2 separate regions of the Homo sapiens genome follow, and region 1 is linked to region 2. Evidence: fine-mapped expression QTL. A gene starts in region 2. The other region holds a variant in brackets. All regions are shown on one strand. Distances are from middle to middle. Region 1 has its middle 23 kb from the start of PDS5A. Region 2 holds the start of N4BP2 (NEDD4 binding protein 2).

The links. PIP is the estimated chance that this variant, and not a neighbour inherited with it, causes the effect.
Region 1: its variant is fine-mapped to the expression of N4BP2 in whole blood (INTERVAL, PIP above 0.99).

Annotation. Positions count from the first base shown.
Region 1 is chr4:39,996,629-40,005,030 of GRCh38, reverse strand. No RefSeq gene overlaps it. Among named protein-coding and RNA genes, the nearest start is that of PDS5A, 23 kb to the right of the region's middle. RefSeq lists enhancers at 3,511-4,024, 4,025-4,540, 4,541-5,054, 5,692-6,196. The variant TTCTA/A (reference allele first, on the strand shown) is at 4,403.
Region 2 is chr4:40,052,618-40,060,850 of GRCh38, reverse strand. It overlaps N4BP2 (NEDD4 binding protein 2), which reads right to left and starts at 4,001. Exons shown (of 18, transcript NM_018177.6): 1 at 3,821-4,001. It also overlaps the pseudogene LOC344967. RefSeq lists enhancers at 2,940-3,039, 3,140-3,189 and silencers at 3,380-3,729, 3,780-4,239, 4,580-4,789.

The DNA.
Region 1 (8,402 bases), 56 kb after region 2:
TAGACTAGCCTGCCCAATATGGCGAAACCCGGTCTCTATTAAAAATACAAAAATTAGCCGGGTATGGTGGCGGGCACCTGTAATCCCAGCTATGCGGGAGGCTGAGGCCGGAGAATCGTTTGAACCCGGGAGGCGGAGGTTGCAGTGAGCTGAGATCATGCCACTGCACTCCAGCCTGGGCAACAAGAGTGAAACTCTGTCTCAAAAAAAAAAAAAGAAAAAAAATGGGCTGGGTGGATCACGAGGTCAAGAGATCGAGACCATCCTGGCCAACATGGTGAAACCCCATCTCTACTAAAAATACAAAAATTAGCTGGGCGTGGTGGCGCACACCTGTTCCCAGCTACTCAGGAGGCTGAGGCAGCATAATCGATTGAACCCGGGAGGCAGAGGTTGCACTCCAGCCTGCTGACAGCGCGAGACTCGGTCTCAAAAAAAAAAAAAAAAATTAGCTGGACGTGGTGGTGTGCACCTGTGGTCCCAGCTACTTGGGAGGCTGAGGTGTGAGGATTGCTTGGGCCTGGGAGGTGGTGGCTGTAGTGAGCTGTGATCACGCCACTGCACTCTAGCCTAGGCAATGGAACAAGACCTTGTCTAAAAAAAAAAGTTTAAAAATACTGTCTTTGTTTATATAGAGAGAGAAATATGAAAAATTCACTGAAGACTGATATTCTTAATACTATCATATTTGTACAGTGTTGTAATTCAATTTAAAGTGACTACAGTTGTGATCATCAGAAAGCATTCCATGCATATGGGAGTAGCACTTGACCTTACACAGCCGACTCACCATTACCAGTTGTTGCAAAGCAGGGACATATCTAGCTTCTGCTGAACATGCAGATATACTAAAAGTGCCATGGGCTTGCACAGTAAGGCTAGAGTTACAGATCTTTGCTTGAGGTCAGTCCTGTGGGGGAAGTAGGAAAGAGGAAGTAGGATTAAGACTATTTGGCAGCAGATAAAGAATCTCTTCTGCAGTTAGGAATTCTTTATTAAACTTGAGGGTATAGACAAGATCAATTCCCCACCTCCAAGCATCAACAAGGACCCTTTGGTATCTGGACACCTTCCATCTCAAAGTGTGATTCATATATCAAATTTTGGTGATATGGACTCAGGCCAGGGTGATGCTATGGCCGTGCTGAATTACTTGACCCAGCTCTTTTTACCTGCAGTTGCTAGAACCCAAGTGCTTTCATGAGGTCAATGAAAGGATCAGATAGGTATTAAACTATTCCTAGCTCTTTTATTAAAATTGCTGTATAACAAAGAGTATATTCTTGCTTTTACTCTGCAGTGAGGTGGGGAAAACAGTGGACTAAAAATCTCACATCTCTTATACAAGAATGTTCATTGCAGCTCTATTCACAATGGCCAAAATCTGGAAATAACCCAAATGTCCATCAACCCGTGAATAGATAAATAGATCGTGGTATATCCTTACAATAAAATAATGCTCAGGAACAAATGCTTACAAATACAACAGCATGGATGAAATCTGAAAACATTATGCTAAGTTTTTGTTTTTGTTTTTTTTGAGACAGAGTCTTGCCCTGTCGCCCAGGCTGGAGTGCAATGGTGTGATCTCAGCTCACTGCAACCTCCATCTCCCAGGTTCAAGTAATTCTCCTGCCTCAGCCTCCCAAGTAGCTGGGATTACGGACGCACACCACCACACCCAGATAATTTTTTTGTAATTTTTAGTAGAGATGGGGTTTCACCATGTTGGCCAGGCTGGTCTCGAATTCCTGACCTCAGGTGATCCCCGTAAATCGGCCTCCCACAGTGCTAGGATTACAGGCCTAAGCCACCAGGCCCGGCCCACATTATTCTAAGTTTTAAAAGCCTTACACACAAGCATATATGTTGTATACTCTTTAAATTTCACTTATCCTGTCGGCTCTCCTTATCCATAGGTTCGTCATTCATGGATTCAACCAACCACAAATACAAAATATTCAGGCCAGGTGAGGTGGCTCATGCCTGTAATCCCAGAACTTTGGGAGGCCTAGGCAGGCAGATCACCTGAGGTCAGGAGTTTCAGACCAGCCTGACCAATGTGGAGAAAACCCGTCTGTACTAAAAATACAAAATTAGCCAGGCGTGGTGGCGCATGCCTGTAATCCCAGGTACTTGGGAGGCTGAGGCAGCAGAATCGCTTGGACCCAGGAGGCAGAGGCTGCAGTGAGCTCAAATCATGCCATAGCACTCCAGCCTGAGCAACAAGAGCGAGACTCCGTCTCAAAAAAAAAAAAATTCAGGAAATAAAAACAAAGCAGTTGGGCATGGTGGCTCAGGCCTGTAACCCCAGCATTTTGGGAGGCTGAAGCATGTGGATTGCTTGACCCCAGGAGTTTTGAGACCAGCCTGGGCAACATGGTGAAAACCCATCTCTACAAAAAATACAAAAAGTAGCCAGTCGTGGTGGCCTGAGCCTGTGGTCCCAGCTACTGGGGAGGCTGAGGTGGTAAGATCACTGGAGCCTGGGAAGTTGAGGCTGCACAGAGCCGTGATCACACCACTGCACTCCAGCCTGGGTGACAGAGCAAGACCCTGTCTCAAAAAATTAAAGTTAAAGTTTAAATGTAAACGTAAAGGCCAGGCGCAGTGGCTCACACCTGTAATCCCAGCACTTTGGGAGGCCTAGGCGGGTGGATCACGAGGTCAGGAGATTGAGACCATCCTGGCTAACACAGTGAAACCCCGTCTCTACTAAAAATACAAAAACTTAGCTGGGCGTGGCGGCGGGCTCCTGTAGTCCCAGCTACTGGGGAGGCTGAGGCAGGAGAATGGCGTGAACCTGGGAGGCGGAGCTTGCAATGAGTCGAGATCACGCCACTGCACTCCAGCCTGGGCGACAGAGCCAGACTCCGTCTCAAAAAAAAATAAAATAAATAAATAAATGTACATTTAAATTTTAAAAAATCTTTAATCTGGCCTGGTGCTTTGGCTCACACCTGTAATCCCAGCACTTTGGGAGGCTGAGGTGGGCGGATCACGGGGTCAGGAGATCGAGACCATCCTGGCTAACACAGTGAAACCCTGTCTCTACTAAAAATACAAAAAATTAGCCGGGAGTGGTGGCACGTGCCTGTAGTCCCAGCTACTCGGGAGGCTGAGGCAGGAGAATTGCTTGAACCCGGGAGGCGGAGGTTGTAGTGAGCTGATATCATGCCACTGCACTCCAGCCTGGGGGACAGAGCGAGACTCCATCTCAAAAAAAAAAAAAATGTGTAATCTTCATTTATTTATTTAGAGAGGGTCTCCTTCTGTCGCCCAGTCTCCCTCTGATGGCCTGCTGGAGTGCAGTGGTGCCGTCTTGGCTCAACACAACCTCTGCCTCTGGGATTCAAGAGATTCTGGTGCCTCAGTCTCCTGAGTAGCTGGGATTACAGGCGTGCACCACCACATCCGGCTAATTTTTGTATTGTTAGTTGAGACAGGGTTTTGCCATGTTGCCCAAGCCAGTGTCCAACTCGTGACCTCAAGTGATCTACCTGCCTCGAACTCCCAAAGTGCTGGGATGACAGGCGTGAGCCACCATGCCAGGCCTAAATATTGTATTTAAAGGAAAATTAAAAAAAAAATACAGCTCAATAGCAAGGCAAAAAAAAGATTGTTTAGAAAAACAATTTTAAAAAATACAAATAAAACTCAATACAGTATAGCAACTATTTAAATAGTATTTGCATTGTATTTGTTATTATAAGTAACCTAAATTTGATTTAAAATCTATGACAGGGGCCAGGCATGGTAGCTCATTCCTGTAATCCCAGCACTTTGGGAGGCCAAGGCACATGGATCACTTGAGGTCAGGAGTTAGAGACCAGCCTGGCTAATATAGCAAAACACCACCTCTACTAAATACAAAAATTAGCTGGGTGTAGTGGCGGGTGCCTGTAATCCCAGTTACTCAGGAGGCTGAGACAGGAGAATTCCTTGAACTCAGGAGGTGGAGGTTGCAGTGAGTCGATTTTGCGCCACTGCACTCCACCCTGGGGACCAAGTGAGACTCCGTCTCCAAAAAAAAAAAAAAAAAAAAAACAGAAAAAAGGATATGGGAGGAGGTACATCTAGTATATGCAAATACTAGGCCTCTTATATAAGGAAGTTGAGCATGCGAGGATATTTCGTGTCCATGCAGCTCTGGGAACCAATCCCCAGCAGATACTGAAGGATGACAGTATGAAGTTTCAGAACAGGCAAAATTAACTTGTTGGATTCATTCACCACTTTCCCATTGCTCATGGCACACTAGTGTCAACCTGAAATAATCAAAAGGATCAGAATCCACCTTAAAGACTTTATTCGAGCAAAAAATTGGAAATAGCCACTTGGGAGACAAAGGCTACAGGAAAATGGGGTCAGTGTTCTAAAGTTAAAAGTTAAGTTTCTTTCT[TTCTA/A]TTTTTCTTTAATTTTAATTTTATTTATTTATTTTTTTTGGAGACAACATCTCGCCCTGTTGCTGAGGCTAGAGTGCAATGGTGCAATCTTTGCTCACTGCAACCGCCGCCTCCCGGCTTCAAGCGATTCTCCTGCCCCAGCCTCAGCTGGGATTACAGGCACGCTCCAACACACCTGGTTAAGACGGGGTTTCACCATGTTGGCCAGGCTGGTCTCGAACTCCTGACTTCAGATGATCCACCTGCCTCGGCCTCCCAAAGTGCTGGGATTACAGACATGAGCCACTGCGCACGGCCTTATTTTATTTTTTGAGACAGAGTCTTGCTCTGTCGCCCAAGCTGGAGTGCAGTGGCACGATTTTGGCTCACCGAAAACTCCACCCCCGCGTTCAAGTGATTCTCCTGCCTCAGCCTCCCAAGTAGCTGGGATTACAGGCGCCTGCTGCCATGCCCCACTAATTTTTTGTATTTTTAGTAGAGATGGGGTTTTCCCATGTTGGCCAGGCTGGTCTCAAACTCCTGATCTCACGTGATCCTCCTGCCTCAGCCTCCCAAAGTGCTGGGATTACAGGCGTGAGCCACCGCGCCTGGCCAGTTTTTAATTTTTTTTAAGAGATGAGATCTTACTATATTGCCCAGGCTGGTGTCAAACTCCCAGGCCCACAAGATCCTCCTGCCTTGGCCTCCCAAAGTACTGAGATTACAAGCATGAGCCACTGCACCCTGCCTTTAAATTCCTTCTTACAAAGACAGAAGAAAACAAGTTTAGTAGGATTATAACATTTTATATACTAGCCTGGTTTATGAATTACAACAATTTAATTAGTTATAGTTTACTTTTTTTCCCATATGGCTTGTTTTCTTTTTTCTTGCTTTTCTTTTTTTTTTTTTTTTTTTTGAGACGGAGTCTCGCTTCGTCGCCCAGGCGGCTGGAGTGCAGTGGCGCGATCTCGACTCCCTGCAAGCTCCGCCTCCCGGGTTCAAGCCATTCTCCTGTCTCAGTCTCCTGAGTAGCTAGGACTACAGGCGCCTGCCACCGCGCCTGGCTAATTTTTTGTATTTTTAGTAGAAACGGGGTTTCACCATGTTAGCCAAGATGGTCTCGATCTCCTGACCTCGTGATCCGCCTGCCTCGGCCTCCCAAAGTGCTGGGATTACAGGCGTGAGCCACTGCGCCCGGCCGCTTTTCTTTTTTTTTTTTTCTTTAGACAAAGTCTCACTCTGTTGCCCAGGCTGGAATGCACTGGTGCAAACTTGGCTCACTCCAACCTCTGTTTCCCAGGTTCAAGCAATTCTCCTGCCTTAACCTCCCAAGTAGCTGGGACCACAGGTGGTCTGCCACCACACCCAGCAAATATTTGTATTTTCAGTAGAGACGGAGTTTCACCGTATTGGCCAGGCTAGTCTGGAACTCTTGGCCTCAAGTGATCCGCCCACCCTGGCCTCCCAAAGTGTTGGGATTACAGGCATGAGCCACCACTCCCAGCCTGTTTTCTTTTCTTTGTGCTAGTTTTCATTACCTTTCCAATTTAAAAGAATGTACTTAACATTCCATCTTAAGAGGATGTGATAGCCATGAAGTCTTTGTGTGAGAAAAGTAAGAGGGAAGTTAATCTATAATGAAGATTAACTGTGAAGAGGGAAGAGGTCTGCCCTGGCCCTTTTAGTCCTTTGCAGTATTTTAAAAACAATGTAGATAAGGAATAAGAATAATCTATAATCAGAGAAACAAAGTTTCTAGTTGCCTAGGTAACAGCTGCCTGTCACATGATTCAGGCCTTATAATCTCTCTCCTTTAAGGCTCAAAATAATTTACAGTTCCAACATGCTAGATTTTAAATTTATTTTCACAGTAGCTACGCTAGCTTTTTTTTTTTTTTTTTTTTTTTTTTTTTTTTTGAAACAGAGCCTCGTTCTGTCTCCCAGGCTGGAATGCAGTGGCGCGATATCGGCTCACTGCAAGCTCCGCCTCCCGGGTTCACGCCATTCTCCTGCCTCAGCCTCCTGAGTAGCTGGGACTACAGGCGCCCGCCACCACGCCCAGCTAATTTTTTTTTTTTTTGTATTTTTAGTAGAGACGGGGTTTCACCGTATTAGCCAGGATGGTCTCGATCTCCTGACCTCGTGATCTGCCTGCCTCGGCCTCCCAAAGTGCTGGGATTACAGGCGTGAGCCACTGTGCCCGGCCTTTTTTTTTATTTTTTTATTTTTTTGTTCTTTGAAGTTAACAAGTACTTTCCTACCTCAGAGCCTTTTGTTCTGCTATTCCCCCAAAATAGGTTATTCTTTCTTCCCCTTTTAATCTGGATTACTACCCCAATTTAGACATCCTGTTTTTCAAGGAATCTTTCTGGTTAGCTCTCTTGCACTTATTTTTTGTCATAATTATACTAATTATAAATAAGTAATAATTGGTAAGTTTACTTGTTAGGGGCCTATTCCACCTTAGACTGTGAATTCCTTGATGTGCAGGACTATTTACATCTATTTAGTGTTCTACTCCCAACCTCTGTCAGCATTTTTGAAAGTATAGTGGGCGGCCGGGCACAGTGGCTCAAGCCTGTAATCCCACCACTTTGGGAGGCCAAGGCAGGTGGATCACCTGATGTCAGGAGTTCGAGACCAGCCTGGCCAAGACTGTGAAACCCCATCTCTACTAAAAATACAAAAATTAGCCAGGTGTGGTGGTGGGGGCCTGTAATCCCAGCTACTCAGGAGGCTGAGGCAGGAGAATTGCTTGAACCCAGGAAGTGGAGGTTGCAGTGAGCCAAGATTGTGCCACTGCACTCTAACCTGGGCGACAGAGCAAGACTCCATCTCAAAAAAAAAAACTAGCCGGGCGTGGTGGCGGGCACCTGTAATCCCAGCTACTTGGCAGGCTGAGGCAGGAGAATCTCTTGAGCCTGAGAGGCAGAGGTTGCAATGAGCTGAGACATTGCCATGGCACTCCAGCCTGGACAACAGAACAAGATTCCATATCAAAAAAAAAAAAAAAAAAAAAAAGAAAAGAAAAAAAAGAAAATATAGTGGGCAACTAATAAATATTTATGGATTAAGCCAACAGTCAAATGAAAGAATCCATGTTTCCATCTTCTCATTTTCCAAAAATTTGGTGATCTTTGGTCATCTTCTCATAGGGCAACAATTTTATAATATTATTTTCCATATAGAGAATGAAAAGATAGTCTCAATTAGCCAGGCGTGGTGGCACACACCTGTAGTCCCAGCTGCGCAGGAGGCTGAGGCAGGGGAATCCCTTGAATCCAGGAGGCAGAGGTTGCAGTGAGTTCACTGCACTCTAGCCTGGGGGACAGAAGGAGACTCTGTGTCCAAAAAAAAAAAAAAGGAAAGAAAGAAAGAAAAAGAAATACATTGCTATGGTCCAGAAACGGGGGACAACTCAAAGGGGTGGGAGGGGGCGCTTACAGGCTATAGGTGAATTTGAACATTTTCTGGTTAACAATTGGTCGAGTTTGACTAAAGATTTGAGATTGATAGAAAGGGAATGTTCAGGGTAAGATAAAGATTGTGGAGACCAAAGTTCTTTGGAAGTCTTATAGTGACTCCCCTTAGAGACAATAGATGACAAATGTTTTCTGTTCAGATCGTAGTTAATCTCTTTAGCATTGGGAGTGTCTGGAGGAAAAAGATATAGCTACGTTAATAGAGATCCTTTACAGATGCAAATTTCCCCCACAAAGAACAGCTTTGCAGGGCCATTTTAAAATACGCCAAAGAAACATGTTTTGGGGTAAAATACTTTGATTCTGGCCAGGCGCGGTGGCTCACGCCTGTAATACCAGCACTTTGGGAGGCTGAGGCAGGCGGATCATGAGATCAACAGATTGAGACCATCCTGGCCAACATGGTGAAACCCCGTCTCTACTAAAAATAAAAAAGTAAGGCCGGGCCTGGTGCGGCGGCTTACGCCTGTAATCCCAGCACTTTGGGAGGCCGAGGTGGGTGGATCACAAGGTCAGGAGATTGAGACCAGCC
Region 2 (8,233 bases):
AGAAGACTGCTTGAGCCCACAAGTTTGTGACCAGCCTAAGCAACACAGCGAGACCCTGTCTCTACAAAAAAATTTTAAAAATGAGCCAGGCACAGCGGTATGTGCCTATACTCCCAGCTACTCGGGAGGCTGTTGCAAGAGGATCCCTTGAGCCCAAGAATTCAAGGCTACAGTGAGCTATAATCATGCCACTGCACTCCAACCTGGACAACAGAGGGAGACCCTGTCTCAAAAAAAAAAAAAAAAAATCTAGCTACTTAGCCACATAAATTTATTAAAGCCTCTTTTAATTTTTAAAGTATGTGCGGCCGGGCACAGTGGCTCATGCCTGTAATCCCAGCACTTTGGGAGGGCAAGGTGGGTGGATCACCTGAGGTCAGGAGTTCACGACCAGCCTGACCAACAAGGTGTAACCCCATCACTACTCAAAATAAAAACATTAGCCGGGCGTGATCGTGTGCACCTGTAATCCTAGCTACTTGGGAGGCTGAGGCAGGAGAATTGCTTGAACCTGGGAGGCAGAGGTTGCAGTGAGCCAAGATGGCACCATCACACTCCAGCCTGGGCAACACAGTGAGACTCCATCTCAAAAAAAATAAATGAAGTATGAGAGCTCAGATAGAATTGATTAACCACAATCTAGATGTACAGTTCTAATAAAATAATTTCTGGAGGGCAATGCTGAGATAGGTAAGAAAGTAAAATACTCTTCCCAAGGCGCAGGCACAGTGGCTCACGCCTGTAATCTCAGCGCCTTGAGAGGCTGAGGCAGGAGGACTGCTTGAGCTCAGGAGTTCGAGAGCAGCCTGAGCAACATAGTGAGACCCTGTCTCTTTAAAAAAAGAAAAAAAAAAAAGAATAAGGTTTTGGGTCACAAAGATCTAAGTTTGACTGAAACCTACCTGATACATACATAACACTCCCACACACTAGTCGGGTAACTTTCAGCAACTTTCTTAATACTTCTCAGTCTCTGTCTCCTCCCCTGTAAGAATAGTGCAAATCTCAGAGTTGTAAGAATTAAATACAATCACATATGCAAAGTGCTTAAAACAGCACCTGGTGTGCATGTGTGTGTACATACACATAAGCCACTTCATTACTATGAGGACGAGGGCAATGAGGTTGATAATGATACATGGCTTGATGTATGCTTACTCATTATCAGGCAAGGTAGGTATCAAAAAAGTGTTCAATCTAAGGCCAGGCGGGGTGGCTCATGTCTGTAATCCTAGCACTTTGGGAGGCCAAAGCGGGCGGATCACTTGAGGCCAGGAGTTACAGACCAGCCTCACCAACATGACAAAAACCCATCCCTACTAAAAATACAGAAGTTAGCCAGGTGTGGTGTTGAGCACCTGTAATCCCAGCTACTCCAGAGGCTGAGACAAGATAGCGCCACTGCACTCCAGCCTGGGCGACAGAGTGAGGCTCTGTCTCAAAATACATACATACATACATACATAAAAAATGCTCAATCTCTTCTTAAATTCCTAACATAAACTACTTCTAAAGGCATTTAATAGACAACTGATTCTTCCCAAGACTTACAATATGATTTTGCATATAAAAAGCTGAAAGGAAAGCAAAGAAGGTAGATAGCTATTTTTCTGAAATTCATTAACTAATAAATGGTTGCTGCTTTGCATATCAAAAAACATGCATAATCATGGCTAATCATGATGAAAAGGGAGATTTTAAAAGGAAAATAATCAGCGTTTTAAAACGGCCGGGCGGGCGTGGTGGTCACTCCTGTAATCCCAGCACTTTGGGAGGCGGAGGCAGTTGGATTGCTTGAGCTCAGGGGTTTGAGACCAGCCTGGGCAACATGGCGAAACCTCCTCTCTACAAAAAATACAAAAATTAGCCGGGCGTAGTGGCTTTCGCCTCTAGTCCCAGCTACTCTAGGGGACGAGGTGGGAGGATGGCTTGAGCCCAGGAGGCAGACGTTGCAGTGAGCTGAGATAGTGCCACTGCACTCCAGCCTTGGCGATACGGCCAGACCTTGTCTCAAAAAAATAAATAAATAAGATGCAACTATGTAACAGTATTTAGATTTAAAATAAATACTAAAAAAAAAACATGCAACTAGTGATAATATTTAGCTTCTACTGTGTACATACAAGATACTATGCCTACTTTAATATACTTTAATGAAGGAAAAAACATGCCTCTACCATAACTTAAGCCCACTTTTTCTATGAAATACAGTACTTCTATCTCCCCTTCAAATTAACTAAAGTCAACAAGTACACAAACTGGCATTCGTACGTACTGCGTGCTGATTTCAACTGCTTTATTCTTTATTGTTTTACAGGTTAGTCTTTTTTCATTAACTAAATTGTAGCCTCCTTGCAAAAGAGCAGCCATTTATTTCCTATTCTTCCCACCATGTCCACCACTACAGCCCCTCGCTCCTACCCCCCATCCTAGCACGGCACTTAAATAATAAAAGGTCCTGGCAGCGAAACTCAAAACTGTTTATTTCTGACCTTTAGCAGTAAACAATGTTAGAAAGGCAGATGGAACCACGTTTATCAAAACACAGAACACACGATGTTTACATTTCCTAAAGCGCGTCTTTTAGTTAAAATTAAAGGATGAGAGTTAAAACGAGTTACAAAAGACAGCTGGTGTTTGAAAGAAAAACACTGGAAGTAATAAAAACGGAGTGAAAAGGCTGATGTTGGGATTAAAAGAAAACATTTTTTTAATACAGCTGCAAATCAGTCATTGTTTTCTGAGAGGCTAGGTTCATCTCCAGGATTTTCTTCTAGGAGCTCAACCAATGGCCACCTTTACTGAGTTAACCAGTCTCCAGGCAAGCAGCCCTTGCTGATTGGCTCAAAGATGTCGAGTAGAAAAAGCAGCCAATCCTGCCTTCAAGCCAGAACTGTGCCATGGAGACATTACAACCACTGCATGGCGAGAATGTGTACAAACCTGTCCGTGCCACAAATATCAGATCCTAGTTACAAAGACTGCCGCCGAAAGGAAGAGCCTTTGAAGCCAACACTGACACTGACCTGTCATCTACATTCTATTACTCTAGCTCTCTTTCGGAGGGAAAAAAAAAACTATTTTAACCAAAAGCGCATGAGAGATAAACTGTGCCCCCGCTAAGATGACTCACTCTATTGAGGATGAATTTCCAAACGGACGGCTTAGAGAGAGTCCCGATGAGAGAGGGGCTCTAGAAGGGTCCCATTGAGGGACAAAGTTGCAGATGGGGGCAGGGGAGGCGGGACGAGGGCCAAAGACACACAAATGCCGGGGAGGGGAAAGTCTCCCCGCAGTCTCCAAAATCCGAACGTGTGAGTGGCTGTGTGTCTGGACTTGAACTGAGTAAATAAACGGCTCTGCTAGGACTATGTGCTCAGGAAGGTGGCCTGAAGTTCCCAGAAGGCTCCGCCTGGCAAACACCTAAGGCGCCTGGAGGGGCGCAAGGTCAGGTCCCGGCGGGAACAGATCTGGGAGGAAACCTCGGGGGGTCGAGAGGGGTGTGTCTGGGGCCTGGAGGCCCGCCAGGCACTCGGAGGCCAAGGAAGCGGCCGCGGCCCCCGCCTTCGCCCGGCCTCGGGCTGAGCGCCAGGGCCCGCCTCTCGCCGACGCCTCACTTCCCTTCCGTCCGGGCAGCCGGGCCCGCGGGTCAGATCGGAGGCGGCCCGCGCCGGGCCCCACATTCAGGGCTTGGGGGTTCATTCGCCGCGCCGCCCGCCGCTGCTTCAGGCCCTCCGCTTCGGCTCGGAGCCCCGGGACCCCTAACCTCCAGGGCCCTCACCTTGGACCCGCCTCCCTGCCTCCCACCCGCCGCCTTTACCTGCTTCTGGAGCGGGCAGAGGGCGTCGAAGCCGGTGCCGCGTCGTCGAACGCACAACGCGGCGCCGCAGGTCCGCAGCCCTTTCCCGCCGGCGCCACTGCGCTCTCCCGCGCCGCGCAAGGCTAGCAAGCAGCTGCGGCCGCGGGGGAGACACGGCGAGCGCGCCCGGCGGGGAGACACTGCCGCTCTCCGTCCGGCCGGGGAAGAGCAGCCGCGCAGAAGCCCGCCGCGAGAGGGCGGGTGGGCGGCCGGGTGGGGAGGGGTCTCGAGGCGCCGGCAATGGCTGCCACGTCGCCCAGGTGGATCGCCGCCCACCGCCCCCCCCCAAGCCCGCCGGCTGTCCGCCACGACCTCTGCTTCGTCCCCGAGCTCCGCCTCGGCGCGGCGGCCCGGGGGACTTGAGCCCGCGGGCGCTCCCACCTCTCCCGCTCCCGCTCTCCCGTTGGAGAGCAAGCCCTGCCCGGCCGGTTCGGCTGCTTCCGGTCGCCCACCCCCCAAGTCTCGCCCGAGAGCGGGCCGTGGTCCCCACTTTTCTTATCAGGGGGTCCCTGGAGGAGCAAGCCCTTCTTCGAGTGTCGGGTTCTGCTTGGGGGGAAGGCGGGAGCTGTTTGGCGCTGGGGAACATTGCAACAGGCCCGGAATTTTTGCCAAAATAAGCGGCGCGGTAAACCACAGCTGTTTCTAGCCCTCGGCACTCTCCCGAGCCCCAAAAAACAAAACAAACACAAGGTCGGCCTCGCGAGGTGAGGGGAGAAAGGAAAGCAGAGCTGGGACGAGCCCTGACGCGCGCGGGGTCCAGGCTGCAAGTTGGGAGGGACGGCGAGGCGAGCGACCGGCCTCGGCATTGCCTGACTAGGGCCGTGGCCGCTGCGGCGGGCACGGGAACCCGCCTTCTCGCGCGCGGCCCTCCCGCGGGGGGCTTCCGGGCGCGCGGCCTCGGAGCCCCACGGGGAGACAAAGGGGTAGGCGACTGCCACGGGGTGGAGGGAGGCTGCCCAGCCCCATCGGCCCTGCCAGCGTGCGGTCTGAGCTCGGGGAATGTGTGCGCCTTAGCCGGTGGAACCGCAGCCGCTGGCCTTTGCCCCCAGTTCGAGCTTGAGTTTTCGGATGCCAAGAAAAAGCAAAGACGTGCTCTTCCCTCTTGCGACCGCTGTAGTATGAGTCCGTCCCCAAGCCTGCACCATTTTTTTTCTCTCAACTCTGCTTTCCCTGGTTTATTTGTTCTGGGTTCTGATGTGAAATGTTTAGTGTTTTCAGGGTACGCAAATTTTTCACCTTTGCTTTCTGGTTGGTGGTGGTGGTGGTGATGGTAGTGGTGGTGGTTTTGCCTGTTTTTTACTTCCTCCGTCCCCTCCCTTTGCGGTTACTTTTCATTCCACTTGCAGTGGTTTTTCCCAGAATAGAGAAGCGAAATAACCTCATGACAAAGTGTCCCTTTGCATCGAAGATACATTGTTGGTTGTTATGGCAGTTGCTTTAAACAGAGTGTAAATTTGGGGCAAGTGCAAGTGGTTTTTGTCGTTTAGGTCTAACTGGAACACTTATTCACAATGAGAACGTTGTAGTGCTTTTTCAAGAAACTAGTAATATATAAGGAGAGAACTCAAGAAGATAAATTTTCTGATGAAACCATCCATATAGAAAAATAGGGGAATTTTTCCTTTTGTATGAATTTTGTATTTAGAGGTCTCGAGTCCCAGTGTTAAATCACAGACTTCATGTTCATCCTTAAAAAAAAATCACTATACAAAAACCCCTTAATGCTTTTATTAAATTTCAAAAACAAAAAATTGTAATAACCCAGAATCTCAAGAGATAAATAGCTGTTGCTGAGAAGCTAACATTAACTCTGCCTCTAAACAACCATTATAAGAGACTAAAAACTGTAATATATGCCACTTTAGAAATGAAAGAACCCTAGTAATTATAAACTTGAAAGATGTCGAGGAAATTAATATTTTGTTTTTGAAATATGTTCACCATGATAATAAAAACTAGCATTTAAATTATTTTCCTTTGAACATCTGTTAAGGATTCATCAAATCTTAAGTCAGAACAATAAGAAATAAACTCTTCTTAACATTGGAAAATATATTTCAAGCCACAAAGACAACACCCAAGCTGAATGTTTTTAAAGTTTGTTTACTATGGCAATAAGAAGAACATCAACACCATAAAGTTCTGAAAGTGAGACTGGAATGAAGAACAAAGCAATCTTCACTCAACATTCGCAGTATCAGCCTTCGGTTGTGAATATTTATAAAGATTTCCTCCTTTCTTATTGGTTCAAATTCTAAGCCAATGGGAAAAGTACAACACGTCTTTTAAAGGGTGAAGCATCAATCAGCATTAGATTAGTATCTGGGATAAAGGTTTTGGTTATCATGCTCGTTCTCATTGAAGTTCATGTCCCTTTAAATTTCTTTTTTTTTTGGGGCGGCGGGGGGGCGGTGACTAGAGTTGCTCTGTTGCCCAGGCTGGAGTGCAGTGGCACAGTCTCAGCTCACTTCAACTTAACGCCTCCCGAGTTCAAGTGATTCTCGTGCCTCAGCCCCCCGAATAGCTGGAATTGCAGGCGTCTGCCACCAAACCCAGCCAATTTTTATATTTTTAGTAGAGGAAGGGTTTCTCTGTGTTGTCCAGGCTGGCCTCTAACTCCTGACCTCAGGTGATCCTCCCACCTCGGCCTCTCAAAGTGCTGGAATTAAAGGCGTGAGCCACCGCACCGGGCCGTGTCTCTTTAAATTTCAAAGAAGACATTTAAGAATAGGGCCTGGCACAGTGGCTCACGCCTGTAATCCCAGCACTTTGGGAGGCTGAGGCAGGCGGATGGGATCACGAGATCAGGAAATTGAGACCATCCTGGCCAATACAGTGAAACCCCGTCTCTACTAAAAATACAAAAAGTAGCTGGGCGTGGTGGCATACACCTATGGTCCCACCTACTCGGGAGGCTGAGGTAAGAGAATCGCTTGAACCGGGGAGGCTGAGGTTGCAGTGGGCCGAGATTGCGGCACTGCACTCCAGCCTGGGCAACAGAGCAAGACTCCATCTCAAAAAAAGAATTATTGACTATCTTGTGGGTGCCACACCTGCTCACATTCTCTTCAGTCTTCCAGTTGGTTTTATTACAATTGGTCTTGTTAGAATTATGTGACAATATATCTAAAATGCCAGATAAATCTGAGGAATGGTAAAATGTCTACTACTTAATACATTAAAATGAATCCTGGCATTTTAGATTAAAAACTTACCTTTAAGGAAAGACTAAAGTTTATATTTTGGGCCGGGCGCAGTGGCTCACGCCTGTAATCCCAGCACTTTGGGAGGCCGAGGCAGGCGGATCACGAGGTCAGGTGATGGAGACCATCCTGGCTAACACGGTGAAACCCCGTCTCTACTAAAAATACAAAAAATTAGCTGGGCGTGGTGGCGGGCGCCTGTAGTCCCAGCTACTCGGGAGGCTGAGGCAGGAGAATGGTGTGAATCCGGGAGGCGGAGCTTGCAGTGAGCCAAGATTGTGTCACTGCACTCCAGCCTGGGCGACAGAGCCAGACACCGTCTCAAAAAAAAAAAGAAAAAAAAAAAAAAAAAGTTTATATTTTGGGAAATGTCTTGGATTTTTGTAAAAAAAAAAAAAAAAACTGCCAAGTCGTCAAAAGTAAACCTTTTATATTTACCTAAGTCCAACTTTGGTCTATGTAACAGCTAAATTCTAAACATGATTGTCTGTGTTTATGTTTAGAACATAGGTATGATTTCCTTCCAACCAAAAATATTAATAATCTATGCCACCTTTGTATTCCTATACTTGGATTATGACTTGAAGCATTCCACTTAATTATTCATGTGTTTATAATCTCCCTTACTAAGTCATCAATGCCTTGAAGTTTCCCATTCAGCCTTGTATTCCTCATTGTCAGACTCCCAGCCTTGTGCAATATAAACACTCCATGAATGTTTACTGAGTGAAAGAATAAGTGAGCATCACTCTATGACAAGACATATGGCAAATCAAGAAAATCTGTGTCAGGATTTTTTCCTCTTCTACATAATGGCTAATGACACTGTTTTCATTCCCAACTAAGAATAGTATTGTTGACCAGGCGCAGTGGCTCACACCTGTAATCCCAGCACTTTGGGAGGCCAAGGCGGGCGGATCACGATGTCAGGAGATGGAGACCAGCCTGGCTAACATGCTGAAACCCCGTTTCTACCAAAAATACAAAAATTAGCTGAGTGTGGTGGCTCTTGCCTGTAGTCCCAGCTACTCAGGAGCCTGAGGCAGGAGAATGGCTTGAATCCGGGAGGTGGAGGTTGCAGTGAGCCAAGATCGTGCCATTGCACTCCAGCCTGGGTGACAGAGTGAGACTCCATCTCAAAAAAAAAAAGAATAGTATTGTTGCAAGAACT